Linked DNA regions of Homo sapiens: region 1 is linked to region 2. A link means that fine-mapping ties the variant in region 2 to the expression of a gene that starts in the linked region. Tissue or cell type: whole blood. Region 2 holds a variant in brackets; the other region holds the start of a gene. All regions are shown on one strand. Distances are between the middles of the regions.

Region 1 (8,179 bases), 290 kb after region 2:
CATGTTGGCCAGGTTGGTCTCAAATTCCTGAACTCAAGTGATCCACCCACCTCGGCCTCCCAAAGTGCTGGGATTACAGACGAGAGCCACCGCGCCCGGCCTGATGTGTTCTTTTTCAGGCACTCAGATAACTCAGTTCCCTTGGTCCTAACTAAGCTGAAGGTCCTCCTGGTGGCCTTGGACAGCTGGGCCACACCTTCCTCTGCCGTCTAAGTGCCAGCACCACAGCTTAATCAGACGACAAACATGTCATGGACGCTACACCTCTAGCGTCATCTCAGCAACACAAAGAGCTGTTTCACAGACAGAGTCGCAACTGACCAGCAAGTACTACTCCCCTCCACTCTGAAAAGAACAGCCGGAGAGCACCAGAAATTCACCTGAATTCTCCTGAAGGGTGCAGCACACAAGACACGGAAATCAAACAGCACAGGCTCCAAACAAAGGGAGAGCAGAGGGAGGAGGCAAAACCCGTCAACAAAACGAAGTACTGAAGGGGAGGGCGCAGCAGGCAGGCACCACCTACAGGAGCGGGGTCCAGGTGAGGCTCTTTTTGGAAGATGAAACAAACTAGCTAGTACTTGAGCCCTGAGCAAAGTGAGGAAACCAGCTCTCCCGACCTTCCTGGTGCTGGCAGGGGACCTACTCTCACAACTCTGATTTCCAAGACAGGAAGTTCCAGCAAAGGCTCCAGCTTACAGAGAACAAAAAGGCCCAAGATCTTAACGCCTGCACCAACCAGTCCTATCGTGGTTGCCTCAGTCATGTTCTGGCAATTTCACGAAAACAAGAGCATCTGGCATGACCAGGAGACTGGACTCGGCACCCTTGGTGATTGTGGCAGTCACCTCGTCATGCAAAATGACCAACCCGTCACCGTACCTGCCTGACCACAGAATCACGTTTGCTTTGGGAGACTGCGTCTGCTGTTGATCTTTCCAGGTCTTCCCTCTCCTTTAGGAGGCGGCCTCATCCTTCTACTGGCACATCTGACACTTCTGACAGTTGGAGCTCTGACGAAAAGCTCTCATGGTGGGCCACGTGGCTGGGCTCCCCACACACCAGGCCCAGGGCTGGCTCTGTGACTGTCCTGAGGAATGCAGGATGAGGCTCCTACGCACAAGCTTATATCTGACAGAAAAGACACAACTGCTAGCCTCATTCACCATCACTCCTGCACACTCCCGCAAGTCTTTCATCAAACCAATTATTCAGAGCTATCTCCTTACCCTTGCACCTGCAGCTTTCCAGACATGGAACGTTCCTCCCTCCCCTCCAGTGAAAACAGCCTTGGACACTCGGCCCAAATCGCTCCTCATCTGTGAAACTTACCCTGGGGCAAGCAGCTCTTGTTTCTCTAATGTGCTGTCCAGGCCACCAAGATGGCCCTGGTACACTGCTCAGCAGCCACCTATGACTCCAGACAGCAGGGTCACATTTTCTTTGACGACTCGGGGGCATTGGAAATGTATTTGCTGAATAAACTGTTATGGGCAAAAATGACAAATATAAAGTCCACAAGCGGATATCCTAGCCCACCCCTCACAGAAATATTCTGAGGGTAGGCCAGGCGCAGTGGCTCACGCCTGTAATCCCAGCATTTTGGGAGGCCAAGGCTAGTGGATCATGAGGTCAGGAGTTCGAGACCACCCTGGCCAGCATAGTGAAACCCCATCTCTATTAAAAATACAAAACCTAGCTGGGTGTGGTGGCATGCGCCTGTAGTCCCAGCTACGTGGGAGGCGAAGTCAGGAGAATCACTCGAACCCAGGAGGCGGAGGGTGTGGTGAGCTGAGGTTGCACCACTGCACTCCAGCCTGGGCAACAGAGCAAGACTCCGGCTCAAAAAAAATCAAATAAGATATTCTGAGGGCAAGTGACAGGGCTGGCAGTGTCAGGGGTCAGTGAGGTCTGAAAGGGTAAGAGGGCTGAGCTCATGGGTGACTGAGGCAGCGTAGCATGGGCGAGAGGATTCCACAGACATAAGACACGCACACCTGAAGCCAGGCACATGCTACAACCTGGAAATACTTTCCCAAGAAAAGAAAAAAATTTCAAGAGGTCTGGATTTTCTACATAGGTGGATCTGCCTAAACTATTCTTTCTCCCCTGTTGCACAAGACATGTATTTTCTTAGCTAAATTCTCTCATCGTTCAATCAATCCAAACAATTTACCTTCCCATTCATCCACACAGGTGACAATGACAAGGGCACCTGCCACGCAGAAGGCTGCCAAGAACATGTTCCATTTCTTAGACTCAGGCAGAGGAATGCTTGAACCACCGCACCAGAAGATGGAGGACGAGAGGAGAGAGACAATTTTTAAGAAAAAGAGATAAAGGGCTGGGCACAGCGGCTCACGCTTGTAATCCCAGCACTTTGGGAGGCCGAAGTGGGCGGATCACGAGGTCAGGAGATCGAGACCATCCTGGCTAACAGGGTGAAACCCCGTCTCTACTAAAAATACAAAAAATTAGCCAGGCATGGTGGTGGGCGCCTAAAGTCCCAGCTACTCGGGAGGCTGAGGCAGGAGAATGGCCTGAACCCGGGAGGCGGAGCTTGCAGTGAGCCAAGATCGCGCCACTGCACTCCAGCCTGGGTGACAGAGCAAGACTCCATCTCAAAAAAAAAGAAAAAGAAAAAGAGATAAAGAAACAGAATTAAAATGTCCCTGGGCTGAAAACTGACATATTTTCCAAATGGAAGGGACAGTGCATGATACAAAGCATGAATCACAAACACCTGTGGACGCGAGACCACAAACGACAAAGAGAAAAAATCTTAACCTCCAAGGGGGAAAAAACCCGAGTCAGCTACAAAAGAAACGAGAACCAAATTAACAGAACAGTTGGCCAGGCACGGTGACACACGCCTGCAATCCCAGCATTTTGGAGGGCAAGGCAGGCAGATCACTTGAGGTCAGGCACTGGAGACCAGCCTGGCCAACATAGTGAAACCCCACCTCATAAAGACAAAAAAATAAATAAATAATTGATCAGACACTGGTGCTAGAAGAGAGCAACAGCATCACTTTCTGAGGGAAAATTATTATTATTTTTGTTGTTGAGATGAAGTCTCACTCTGTCGCCCAGGCTGGAGTGCAGTGGTGCAATCTCAGCTCACTGCAATCTCTGCCTCCTGGGTTCAAGCGATTCTCCTGCCTCAGCCTCCCAAGAAGCTGGGATTACAGGCGCGCGCCACCACACCCAGCTAATTTTTGTATTTTTAGTAGAGACAGGGTTTCACCATGTTGGCCAGGCTGGTCTTGAACTCCTGATCTGCCCACCTCAGGCTCCCAAAGTGCTAGGATTACAGGCGTGAGCCACCGCGCCCGGCCACAAGGTATCTTTTATAGACCACTGGTTTTGAAAAGACATAAGATTCAGCGTTGAAGAAAATACCTTTGGAATAGGCAGTCTTGATGCCTGCTAAAGGGGATATAAATTGATAAGGCCTTTTTGGACAATTTGGCAGTATCTGCTAACATTTCAAAAATGCATAGGCTCTGAAATATCAATTCTAAAATTCTAATTATGTAAGGCTAAAGAAATACCGCACGTGAACAAATATTTAAGTACTCACCCATTCTATGCAGCATTGTAATAAAAAGTAAAACCTGAAATAACCTTTATTGCGTCCACTAATAGGACAATGTTTAAACAAATGACACGTCCATCATACAGAATACTGTGTGGTCACTGGAAGGCACATGGACCTGTATACACTGACATGAAAAGATGTGGAAAGAATGCTGGGAGCGTTAAAATTTTCTGAAGTACAACGTAGCACAATGCATACATGGTTTAGGCTTTTTAGAATAAAAAATACTTATACGCAGACATTTATATTTACACGTATAACACTGTGTACAGCCCCGAAGCAATGCCGAAACTTTCACTGTTGTTACCTCCGAGTGGGGACTGGGAAAGCAGAGGTTAGGGTCGTTCTCTCTGTTTTACAAACATTTATTGGCGCATCCATCAATTCCAGGCCCCGAGGACACAGCTGCGTCAACGACATCGAGTCCACCTGCTCTGGGGACCCGGATGACTGCTATAGGTTTTGTTCACTGTGGCGTCCCCAGAACCTGCACGGCGCCGGGCACTGAGCGGGCGCTCACATGTGCGTCCAATGAACGAATTAACAAATGAACCCTCAGTGCGCTACTGGGAGGCGGGGAGGGGTAAAGCACGATCCATGGAACTAGCACGATCACCCCGAGTGAGTCCATTCCCCGCAACATGCACCCGCAAAGACTCCGCGCTCCGCAGCGGCTCCACCTGCACGTGCGCTACCTGACTGGACCGAAGCTCCAGGAGGGACGACCCCGCAGCCGCTCCGCCCGACCCCGCGACCCCCCAAGACCCAGCCTCCTTCAGGGCTCCCATGGGCGGGTGGCGAGGGGAGTCCAGCCGAGGAAAAGGCAGCCAAGCTGGAGCTGGCGAGGAGCGGAGCGAAAGTAAACGCGTCTGCCGCGCTTGGCCTCGCCGGACCTCCCACGCCTGTGAAGCAGGTGCCGGCGCCTCGCTCCCCGGAGCACAGGGACGTCCCTGCCGTCTCCGTGGCCCGGCCCGCCCGCTGCCCGTCCAGCCAGGACGCCCTCACCTCCCGGCACGGCCGCCAGCGCCGGCGCCCGCAGCAAAGGCCGCAGGCGGCGGCCCCACAGCAGCAGCGCCCGCAGCTCGCGCGCCATGTCGTACTCCCAGAGCGCCGCGCGCAGCCACGCGGGACCGTACACGATGGGAAGGGGCGGGACGGGGCTGCGCGGGGCGGGGCTTCCTCGGGCGCGGGGCGGTGACGTCACGGCGGGCGCCGGGCTGTCCGGGCAGCTGCCTGCTCGGGCGCGTGGCGGGGTACTACCCGTCTCGTGGACGGTCGGGCCTGGGGGTGGGACCTCCGTGACCTTGGATCGCGTTGTCAAGGGCGACGGGCCTTGCGCGCGGAGGTGGGGGAGGTGGCCCCGCCGCCCCCGGCCCACGCTGGCCGGCTGCGCCTAGCTGTGCGCATTCCTGGAATGGGGCGGATGTCAGTATCCACGCGAGGGTGTGGAGGCGACGCTGGGGAAGAAGCAGTTCCCGTGTCTGCGACCTTTGTGAATCCCGGCCATCCGTCTAGGCCGCTGCAAGTCTCTTGCAAACCAAGACTGGACAAAAAGCTAAAGCGAATGAGGAAGGGGATTCCAGGCTTGACTGGCTACTACTCCAAAACCTGAACCCAGTGACCAATACCACCAGGAAAACTGCGGTTATTCGTTTATTCCACTTCTCTTGTCCTTGTCGAGAAGAGTCAAACTCTAAAGTATTTAGAAGGTTATTCTGAGCCAAATATGAGTGTGCATGGAGGGAGGCACAGTCTCAAAAGGTCCTGAGAACTTGGCCCAAGGTGCTTGGGTTACAGCTTGCTTGGTTTTATACATTTTAGAGAGACATAAGACATCAGTCAATGCATGTAAGACATAGGTTGGTTCCGTGTGGAAAGGCAGGACAACTCAAAGGGTGAAATACTTAGAGGTCATAGGTGGATTCAGATACTTTCTGATTGGCAATTGGTTAAAAGAGTTGAGTTCTGGTTGGGCGCGGTGGCTCACGCCTGTAATCCTAGCACTTTGGGAGGCTGAGGTGGGCGGACTGCCTGCGGTCAGGAGTCCGAGACCAGCCTGGCCAACATGGTGAAAACCCATCATCTCTACTAAGATACAAAAAATTAGCTGGGCAAGGTGGCACGTGCCTGTAGTCCCAGCTCCTGGGGAGGCTGAGGCGGAAGAATAGCGTGAACCCGGGAGGCTGCGGTTGCAGTGAGCCGAGATCGTGCCACTTGCACTGCAGCCTGGGCGACAGAGCTGTGACTCCGTCTCAAAAAAAAAAAAAAAAGAAAACAAAAAAAAGAAAAAAAAGAGTTGAGTTATACAGACCTGGAATCAATAAAAAGAGTGTCTGGGTGAAGATAAGGGGTTGTGGGCACGAGCACGGTGACTCACACCTGTAATCCCAACACTTTGGGATGCCGAGGTGGGCGAATTGCTTGAGGTCAGGAGTTGGAGAGCAGCGTGGGCAACATGGTGAGACCCTGTCTGTACCAAACATACCTGTACCGGATGTGGTGGCGGAGGCCTGTAATCCCAGCTACAAGGGAGGCTGAGGTGGGTGGATTGCTTAAGCCCAGGAGGGAGAGGTTGCAGTGAGCCAAGTTCGTGCCATTGAACTCCAGCTTGGGCAAGAGAGCCACACCCTGTCTCAAAACAAACAAACAAACAAACAAACAAAAAACAGGTTGTGAAGACCAAGGTTCTTATTATGTAGAGGAAGTCTCATAGATGACCACCCTTACAGGTAATAGATGGCAAATGTTTTCGCAAATATTGTTTATTCAGACCGTTAAAAATTCCTAGACCCTCAGGATCAGGAAAAGACCTGCAAAGGTGGCCTGGCATGGTGGCTTACGCATGTAATTCCAGCACTTTAGGAGGCCAAGGTGGTCTTATCACTTGAGGTCAGGAGGTTGAGACCAGCCTGGTCGGCATGGCAAAACCCCATCTCTACTAAAAATACAAAAATTAGGCCAAGAGCAGTGGCTCACGCCTGTAATCCTAGCACTTTGGGAGGCTGAGGCGGGCAGATCACCTGAGGTCGGGAGTTCGAGACCAGCGTGACTGACAGGGAGAAACTCCGTCTCTACTAAAAATACAAAAAATCAGTCAGGCGTGGTGGCGCATGCCTGTAATCCCAGCTACGCAGGAGGTTAAGGCAGGAGAATCGCTGGAACCCAGGAGGTGAAGGTTGCAGTGAGCTGATACCGCACCATTGCACTCCAGCCTGGGCAACAAGAGTGAAAGTCTGTCTCAAAAACAAAAAAAATTACCTGGGTGTGGTGGTGTGCACCTGTGTACAGCTGAGGCTACTCGGGAGGCTGAAGCAGGGGAATCGCTTGAACCCAGGAGGCAGAGATTGCAGTGAGCCAAGATCGCACCACTGCACTCCCACTCCAGCCTGGGCAACAGAACAAGATTCCGTCTCAAAAAAAAAAAAAAGTCCTTTGTAATGTTAACGCTGGTCAGTTGTGCCTCATTTCCAAGGGGTGGAGGGTGTAATGAGGCAGGACCCACCCCATCCTTCCAATTATGGCCTGAACTAGTTTTTTAGGTTTCTTTGAAATCCCCTTGGTGGAGAGGAATGATCCATTCCATGGGTTGGGGGACTTATAATGTGTTTTTGCCGGCTGGGCACGGTGGCTCACGCCTGTAATCCCAGTACTTTGGGAGGCCGAGGCAGGCGGATCACCTGATGTTGGGAGTTCAAGACCAGCCTGACCAACATGGAGAAACCCTGTCTCCACTAAAAATACAAAATTAGCCGGGCATGGCGGCACATGCCTATAATCCCAGCTACTCGGGAGGCTGAGGCAGGAGAATCGCTTGAACCCGGGAGGCAGAGGTTGCAGTGAGCTGAGATCGTGCCACTGCACTCCAGCCTGGGCAACAGAGTGAGACTCTATCTCAAAAAACAACAGCAAAAAAAGAATTTGTTTTTGCTTTACACCTTGCTGGAGGTTAGAGACTAGTTGGAGATTCAGACCATACACCCTGGTCTAACATTTGGTCCAGACCCAGCTGCAGCCTCATAATGCCGATTTCCCGGCACCTCCTCAGTCCCGGAGTGGGGCCCAGGCGGCTCCACTGAGGTTCCCAGGTAATTCGGAGGCACACTGAAGATTCACTGCCACACTCTAATAACTGTACAAAAATAGCGACTCCAGCTCGTGGCACGTGCTGCAGAGAAGCACAGGAGCCAGGAGAGTGACCTTCAGTGGGGCCGGGACAGAGCTGGGTGGAAGAGGATGTGTCAGGAAACGCTTCCAGGTGGAAAGTGGCAAGTTCCCAGCTTAAGCAATTGAGAAGGGAATGGAAAGAGGGTGGGCAGATTTGGGTGGAAGAGCAGGGTCCTGTCACCCAGACCACTCCAGCAGCCCTGACAGGCCCCCTGCTTCCGCTCTTGCCAGCCTCCCATCCTCCACAGCAGCCGGATCATACTCCGTCTCTCAGATCCTCCAGTGGTCCCCCTACCAACACACATGCACATATTTACAATCCTTTCCAAACTCCTTCTGCCTCCTCCTATAGGCCTGCATGGGCCTGCCTGTGTTCCCTATCACCACACTCCAGGCAGAGCCCTTTCCAGCATG
Region 2 (8,179 bases):
GACTCTGTCTCAAAAACAAAAAACAAAAACAACAACAAACAAAACATAAAATAAAAAATAAGGAAAGATTTACTATTGATATTTTGTTACTTATTTCTGTTAGTCTTATAGTCCTTCTGTCCCTTTCTCTTGCTGTTTTCTTTTGTATTTCACTGTTTTTTTTTTTTTTTTTTTTTTGAGATGGAGTCTTGCTCTGTCACCCAGGCTGGAGGGCAATGGCACAATCTCGGCTCACTGCAACCTTCGCCTTCTGGTTCAAGCAATTCTCCTGCCTCAGCCTTCCAAGTAGCTGGGATTACAAGTGTGCAGCACCACACCTGGCTAATTTTTCTATTTTTAGTAGAGATGGGGTTTTGCCATGTTGGACAGGCTAGTCTCGAACTCCTGGCCTATGTTTTCATTATTTTCTCCTTTTCTTTAATTCTATAGGCATTTTCTTTGTAGTTACCAAGTGTTTACATAAAATCTCTTATAATAGTCTACTTTAAGCTGATAACAACTTAACTTCCCTTGCATGTCAGAACTTTGCTTTTATCTCTCTTCCCCTGGCTTATATGCTATTGATATCACCACTAACACCTATTTATATTGTACCAATTAACATAATATAGTTGTTTTACTACTTTTGTCTTTTAACTTTTATAAGAGAACTAAAATTGATTTACCCACTACTGTTATAGTAATACACTATTGGTTTTGACTATATATTTACCTTTGCCAATGAGTTTCATACTTCGTGTGCTCCTGTTACTGTTTTCCATACTTTTGTTTTAACCTTAAGAACTCTCTTTAGCATTTCTTATAAGGCAGGTCTAGTGGTGATAATCTCCCTCAGCTTTTGTTTGAGAAAGTCTTTATTTCCCTCTCATTTTTGAAGTATGGGTTTGTTGGATATAGCATTCTTGACTGGAAGTTTTTTTCTTTCAGCACTTTGTATCTATTGTCCCACTCCTTTCTGGCCCACAAGGTTTATGCTGGAAACTCTGTTAATAGTTTTATTAGGGGACCCTTGTACACAGAAGTTGCTTTTCCCTTGGCTGCTTTCAAAATTCTGTCTCTAACTTTTGACAATTTGATTGTAATGTATGTCAGTGTGGATCTCTTTGGATTCATCTTATTTTTTTTTTTTTTGAGACAGTCTCGCTCTGTCGCTCAGGCTGGAGTGCTATGGCATGATCTAGGCTCACTGCAACCTCCACCTCCCAGGTTCAAGCCATTCTCCTGCCTCAGCCTCCTGAGTAGCTGGCATTACAGGCACATGCCACCGCGCGCGGCTAATTTTTATATTTTTAGCAGAGACGGGGTTTCACCATGTTGGCCAGGCTGGTCTCGAACTCCTGACCTCAAGTGATCCACCTGCCTCGGCCTCCCAAAGGGCTGGGATTACAGGCATGAGCCACCGCACCTGGCAGGATTCATCTTATTTCATGTCCCTTGGACTTCTTGGGTCTTGATTTCTATTTCATTCCCCAGTTTTGGAAGGGTTTCAGCCACTGTTTGTTTGAATATGCTTTCTGTCCGTTTTGCTCTCTCTGCCTTCTGAAAATCCACTAATGCATACATTAGTCTACTCGATGGTGTCCCTTAAGTACCTTAATCTATCCTCACTCTTTCTTTTTTTCTCATTTTTGCCCCTCTGGTTGGATAATTTCCAATGGCTGGTCTTCAAATTCACTGACTCTTTTTTCTGCTTGACCTAGTCTGTGAGTGAAACCCTCTAGAGAATTTTTCAGATGAGTTATTATGTACTTCAGATCTATAACTTCTGTTTGGTATGTTTTTAAATTTTCTCCTTTTTCTGAGACAGGGTCTCACTCAGTCACCCAGGCTGGAGTGCAGTGGTGTGATAACAGCTCACTGCAGCCTTGGCATCCCAGGCTGAAGTGATCCTCCCACCTCAGCCCCCAGAGGAGCTGGGACCACAGGCGTATGCCACCATGCCAGGCTAATTTTTAATTTTTTGTAGACATGGGGTCTTACTATGTAAACCAGGCTGGTCTTGAACTCCTAACCTCAAGCAATCCTCCCACCTTGGCCTCCCAAAGTGCTGGGATGACAGTGTGAGCCACCATGCCAACCCTTGTTTTTGTATTTTCTCTTTGTTGAAAGTCTCGGTTTGTTCATACATTATACTCCTGACATCAGTGAGCATATTTATGATTATTTTTAATTCTCTTTTTTTTTTTTTGAGAGGACGTTTTGCTCTGTTGCCTAGGCTGGAGTGCAATGACACGATCTTGGTTCACTGCAACCTCCACCTCCCAGGTTCAAGCGATTCTCCTGTCTCAGCCTTCCGAGTAGCTGGGATTACAGGTGCCCGCCACCACGCCTGGCTGATTTCTGTATTTTTAGTAGAGATGAGGTTTCACCATGTTGGCCAGGCTAGTCTCGAACATCTGACCTCAGGTGATCCACCCGCCTCGGTCTCCCACAGTGCTAGGATTACAGGCATGAGCCACTGCACCCAGCCTATTTTTAATTCTCTAATAGGTAAAATCACTGATCTGTATTTCATTGGAATTGGTTTCTGGAGATTTCTTCATCTTTTGTTTGGAACGTATTTTCTATTTCTTGATTTTTTTGTTGACTGTGTTGATTTTCATGCATTAGATAAGACAACTCTCTTTCCAAGTCTTAATATCTGATTTTTCGTAGGAGATGAACCTCACCAATCAACCCAACCAGATTCTAGGCACCTCTCAAACTTTTGTGCTTGTACAAACTGCTGTCTTTGTTCTTAGTAGCCCCAAGAGATTGGGGTGCACCAAATGCCATCAGTGCCCCAAGACTGGTGATATTGAAGCCAGTTACTGAAATTTAGCTAGAAAAGTTGGGGTGTTATATGTGTTCCAGTTCCTTCTATCCTCAAGGAGAAGCTGGGAACTGGTGTTGATCTCCCACTTGCCCTGTACTAAGCTGGGGAGATAATCCCAAGCAAATGCCTGCATTCTCATTCAGACCACATACTCTTTCAACCCATTGCCTAATGTGTTGTTACCCCCAGGGGCCTAGTCAATTGCAGCTCCCATCTACTGTCCAGGACAGATGGATTGTTCAGAGGCTTGGCTCCATCTCTAGAGTGAGCCTGCAAAAGGAATTGCGGGAAGCAACTGCATGCCCATTCAGGCTCCCAGAGGACTACTTATTGCCTGCCCTGTCAGTGCCCAGATATAGGCTAGAGGCCTGACTCATGGACAGCGGCTGGGAAAGTTGGGACGTTAGGTGTGCAGTCAAACCCCTTCCTGGGGGTAAACTGGGAACTGGGTGTTTTTGTCTGCTCGCTTTGTACTGAGTTAGGGGAAACGGATGCTAGAACTGCTCAAACACTCTTTTAAAATCACTTTTCTTCTCTGTAGTCTAGGGGGACTTGTGAATGCAGTCTTATCAATTCCCAGAGACAGATGATTTAGGAGCTTAGAAGCTGGTCCCTTGGGTGGAAGCTGTAAAAGTTGGGGTACACTGTCCAGGAAGAAGCTAGAAGCCTAGTTTTTTTTTGTTTTGTTGTTTTATTTTTGAGACAGAGTCTCACTCTGTCACCCAGGCAGAAGTAGAGTGGCACAATCTCAGCTCACTGCCACCTCTGCCTCCTGAGTTCAAGCCATTCTCCTGCCTCAGCCTCCGGAGTAGCTGGGATTACAGGTGCACCTCCCTGACAACCCCCAACCATGCCCAGGTAACTTTTTGTATTTTTTAACAGAGAGAGGGTTTCACCATGTTGACCAGGCTGGTCTTGAACTCCTGACCTCCACTGATCCACCTGCCTTGGCCACCCAAAGTGCTGGGATTACAGGGGTGAGCCACCGTGCCTGGCCCCTAGTTTTATCTCTGAATGGAGTAGTGGCAGAGGGGAGAACGACAGTGAAGTTCCCACATGCCTGTTCATGCTCCTGGAGGTCTATTGTTTACCAGCCCTATCAGCTACTCGATGTAGGCTACTTAGAAGCCCAGCGTTCAGGCAGCAGTTGGGAAAAATGTGTAGATAAATCCCTTTTAGGGAGACTGTGGAACTGCTTTTTTAAATTCTTTTGTTTCTTTTCTTTTTTTTTAGAGACAGGGTCTCACTCTGCCACCTAGGCTGTAACGCAGTGGCTCCATCATAGCTCAGTGCAACCCTGAATCTTGGGCTCAAGCGATCATCCTGCCTCAGCATCCTGAGTAGCTAGGACTATAGGCATATGTCACCACACCTGGCTAATTAAAAAAAATTTTTTTTTGTTTTGGTAGAGGCAGGGTGTTTGTATGTTCCCCAGGCTGTTTTCAAACTCCTGGCCTCAAGTGATCCTCTGCCTCAGCATCTCAAAGCACTGGGATTACAGGCATGAGCCATGGTGCCCAGCAGATGGTGCATTTCTGCCTGCTTGCTCTGCACTGACCCTGGGGGACAGCCGCTGAAAGTGCTCACATACCTGTTTAAAATGTCCTCTTATGGCTGGGCATGGTGGCTCACACCTGTAATCCCAGCACTTTGGGAGGCTGAGGCGGGTGGATCACAAGATCAGGAGATCGAGACCATCCTAACACTGTGAAACCCCATCTCTACTAAAAATACAAAAAATTAGCCAGGCATGGTGGCAAGTGCCTGTAGTCCCAGCTACTCGAGAGGCTGAGGCAGGAGAATCGCTTGAACCCAGGAGGCAGAGGTTGCAGTGAGTTGAGATTGCGCCACTGCACTCCAACCTGGGCAACAGAGAGAGACTCTGTCTCAAAAAAAACAAA[C/A]AAACAAAAAAAAAAAACCCCACAAAATTAGCTGGGCATGGTGGTGTGCGCCTGTAATCCCGCCTACTCTATAGCCTAAGGCAGGAGAATCGCTTGAGCCCAGGAGGCGGAAGTTGCAGTAAGCCAATATTGTGCCATTGCACTACAACCTGGGTGAAAAAAGCAAAACTCTGTCTCTAAATAAATAAATAAATAAATAAATAAATAAAATGTCCTTTTTTCTCAGGGGACTCACAAATACTAAACCCTGCCATTCCCGGGATAAGAAGATTTAGGAGCCAAACTCTCACGTGGAAACTGTTTAAGTTTGGGAGCGATATGTCTGGCCTCAACCCTTCATTCTTCAAAAATCTGGTATTTCGGGATTCCTTCCCAATTGTAAGATACTGTGCCCAGGTTTTTGGTTTACATTGTGTCTCAATTTGTTGGTATCCATTTTGATGTGGATATATTATCAGTTGCCAGTGTGTGGGAGTCTCAACTAGTTTCTATATTTCTCTCAGAGAGAACTGATCCATGTGTAGATACTTATTCAGTGCATCCATGGAAGGAAAGAAAGTCAGGAGTCTCCCATTCTGTATCTTGTTGATGCCCAATCAGTGAAATGAAACTTTTTTTTTGGGCAGGGAGGGAGTTCTCATTCTGTCACCCAGGGTGAGTACGGTGGAACAATCACAGCTCACTACAGCCTCCACCCAGGCTCAAGTGATCCTATCACCTTAGCCTCCTGAGTAGCTGGGACTACAGGCATGTGCCACTACGCCCGGCTTTTTTTTTTTTTTTTTCAGACAGAGTCTCCCTTTGTCCCCCAGGCTGGAGTGCAGTGGCGCGATCTTGGCTCACTGCAACCTCCACCTCCTGGGTTCAAGCAATTCTCCTGTGTCAGCCTCCCAAGTAGCTGGGACTACAGGTGCGTGCCACCATGACCAGCTATTTTTGTTTTGTATTTTTAGTAGAGATGGGGTTTCACCATGTTGGCCAGGATGGTCTCAATCTCTTGACCCCGTGATCTGCCTGCCTTGGTCTCCCAAAGGGCTGGGATTACAGGCGTGAGCCACTGTGCCCGGCCTAATTTTTAAATTTTTGGTAGAGATGGGTCTTATTATGTTGCCCAGGCTGGTCTGGAACTTCTGGCCTCAAGTAATCCTCCTGCCTTGACCTCCCAAAGTGCTGGGATTACAGGTGTGAGCCACTGCACCGGCCATCTTTGCTAAATTATTACCTTCAAGCCTATAAGGTATCATTATATATTTATCCTGGAAGCTTTCTTAGTTTTTTTCTAAACTCCTTACAGCTTCTTTGGGTACACTGTTACACCTCTTGCCTACTAGTAAGTGACAGCACCAGTATCTATTCTCCTTTCTTTTTTTTTTTTTTTTTGACAAAGTCTCACTCTGTTGCCCAGGCTGGAGTGCAGTGGCACAATCTCGGCTCACTGCAACTTCCGCCTCCTGGGTTCAAGCGATTCTCCTGCCTCAGCCTCCCAACTAGCTGCGACTACAGATGCGCACCACCATGCCCGGCTAATTTTTGTATTTTTTTTAGTAGAGATGGGGTTTCACCATATTGGCCAGGCTGGTCTCGAACTCCTGACCTCGTAATCTGCCCACCTCGGCCTCCCAAAGTGCTGGGATCACAGGCATGAGCCACTGCACCCGGCCCTCTGTCAGTCTTTAAGCTGAAACCAATGGTATAAAAGTGACAGAGCCGTAGTAGTTTCAATCAGTGCATAATTTTAAGCATCTACCATGTTCCTGGTCTCTCCTCCCATGGAGACAATGAAATTTTATTAGTTACATAATTAATATTCAATTACAAGCATATTGCTATAAGGAGGGTAAAACAAAGAATGTAGGAATTGAAAGGGATGTTCCAAGTAAAAGGAAAAGTATGTGCACAATTCTCAAAGAGCTTGGTATGTTTGATGAATTGAGAGAAAGTGTAGCTGGAGAGGGGTAAGAGAAAAAGAACAGCTGGAGTTGACACTGGCAGGGAAGTAATGACTAGGAAGGTCATGTTGAAAATTTAAATGTCCCTAAGGACAATGGGAAGCCAATGGAAGGTGTCAAATTGGATGATGAAATCATCATAATCATCTGGTACCTGGCCCTCTAGTTCTGTGCAGCAAAGACTGGAAAGATGAACATCTAGTGTTGTCTTCCCGCAATAATGCTGGAATTTTCTGCTGAGTTTCAGGGAGCAAACATTTTTTAATACTTCTTTTATTAAATGGCAGTGTGTTAGCTGTGTTGACAGAGAACAAGTGTGATATGAAAGTCATCAGCGGGCTCTTTCAGGTAACCCAGGTGAGTACTGTTGGATAGGATGGGGACAGGGGAGACAGAAACATTCAGGTTTTGGTGATACTTTTGAGGTAGAATCCATGAGACTTGATGATTGAGTGGATGTGATGTCTTAGTCTGTTCTGGCTTCTATAAAAAGTTACCATAAGCCAGGTAGTTTATAAACAACAGAAATTTTTTTCTCATAGTTCTAGAGGCTAGGAAACCCAGATCAAGGTGCTGGCAGATTCATTGTCTGGTGAGGGCCATTTCCACAATGGCACCTTCTTGCTGGGTCCTCACAGGCTCGAGTACAGTGGGCCAATCATAGTTCACTGTAACCTCAACTTCCTGGGCTCAAGCAATCCTCCTGCCTCAGCCTCCCAAGTAGCTAGGACTACAAGCACCAGCCACCACACCGGGCTAAATAAATTTTTTGAAAAGATGGCGTGTCGCTATGTTTCCCAGGCCGGTCTTGAACTCCTGGCTTTAAGCAATTCTCACACCTTGGCCTCCCAAAGCACTGGGATTACAGACGTAAGCCACCACACCCGGCCTGCAGTCTCTTTTATAAGGACACTAATCCCAATCATGAGGGGTCTGCCAAAGTCCCCACCTCCTAATAACATCAGTTTAAGTGTTAGAATTCCAACACATGAATTTTTAGGGTACACAAATATTCAAGCCATAGCAAGAGGAAAGAGGGAGTGTTTGTTGATAGCATGAGCAATTGTATGGATGTGGCCCCACATACTGGAGGCAAACAGATCAGGGGCTAAAAGCATGAGTTAAGGGCATGTGTTTTGATGCCTGAGAGACATCTAAAAGACGACTCCTGTAGGCACCTGAATGTAGGAATCTGGAGTACATAGAAAAGAAATTGGAGCTAGACCTAAAATGAGGTCTTTGTAGCCATGGAAGTGGCTAAGCTCACCTGGGGAGATACCATTTACCAAAGGTAAGCCGAGGGTACATTCCAGCTAAGTAGAAGCATGTTAGAATTTGGCTGCAGAGAATGCCAAAAGCCTAAGAGATTGGTACTGGTTCTAAAGAAAAGACACTCTACCCAGCACAAGTGAGATGTACAAAGTGCCCATTTCAACAAGCCAGAGACACACGTGGTAGTCAGGCCCACAGCTCTGCATTGCCTAAGTGAGATTAGAGCTGGGACGGTGGCCCGG

What was found. PIP is the estimated chance that this variant, and not a neighbour inherited with it, causes the effect.
Region 1: TRAP1 starts here. The variant in region 2 is fine-mapped to the expression of TRAP1 in whole blood (INTERVAL, PIP above 0.99).

What each region holds. Positions count from the first base shown.
Region 1 is chr16:3,712,815-3,720,993 of GRCh38, forward strand. It overlaps TRAP1 (TNF receptor associated protein 1), which reads right to left and starts at 4,710. Exons shown (of 18, transcript NM_016292.3): 1 at 4,607-4,710. The coding sequence starts at 4,694. RefSeq lists an enhancer at 948-1,456 and silencers at 4,311-4,430, 4,451-5,060.
Region 2 is chr16:3,423,488-3,431,666 of GRCh38, forward strand. No RefSeq gene overlaps it. Among named protein-coding and RNA genes, the nearest start is that of ZNF597, 16 kb to the right of the region's middle. RefSeq lists an enhancer at 7,964-8,179. The variant C/A (reference allele first, on the strand shown) is at 4,717.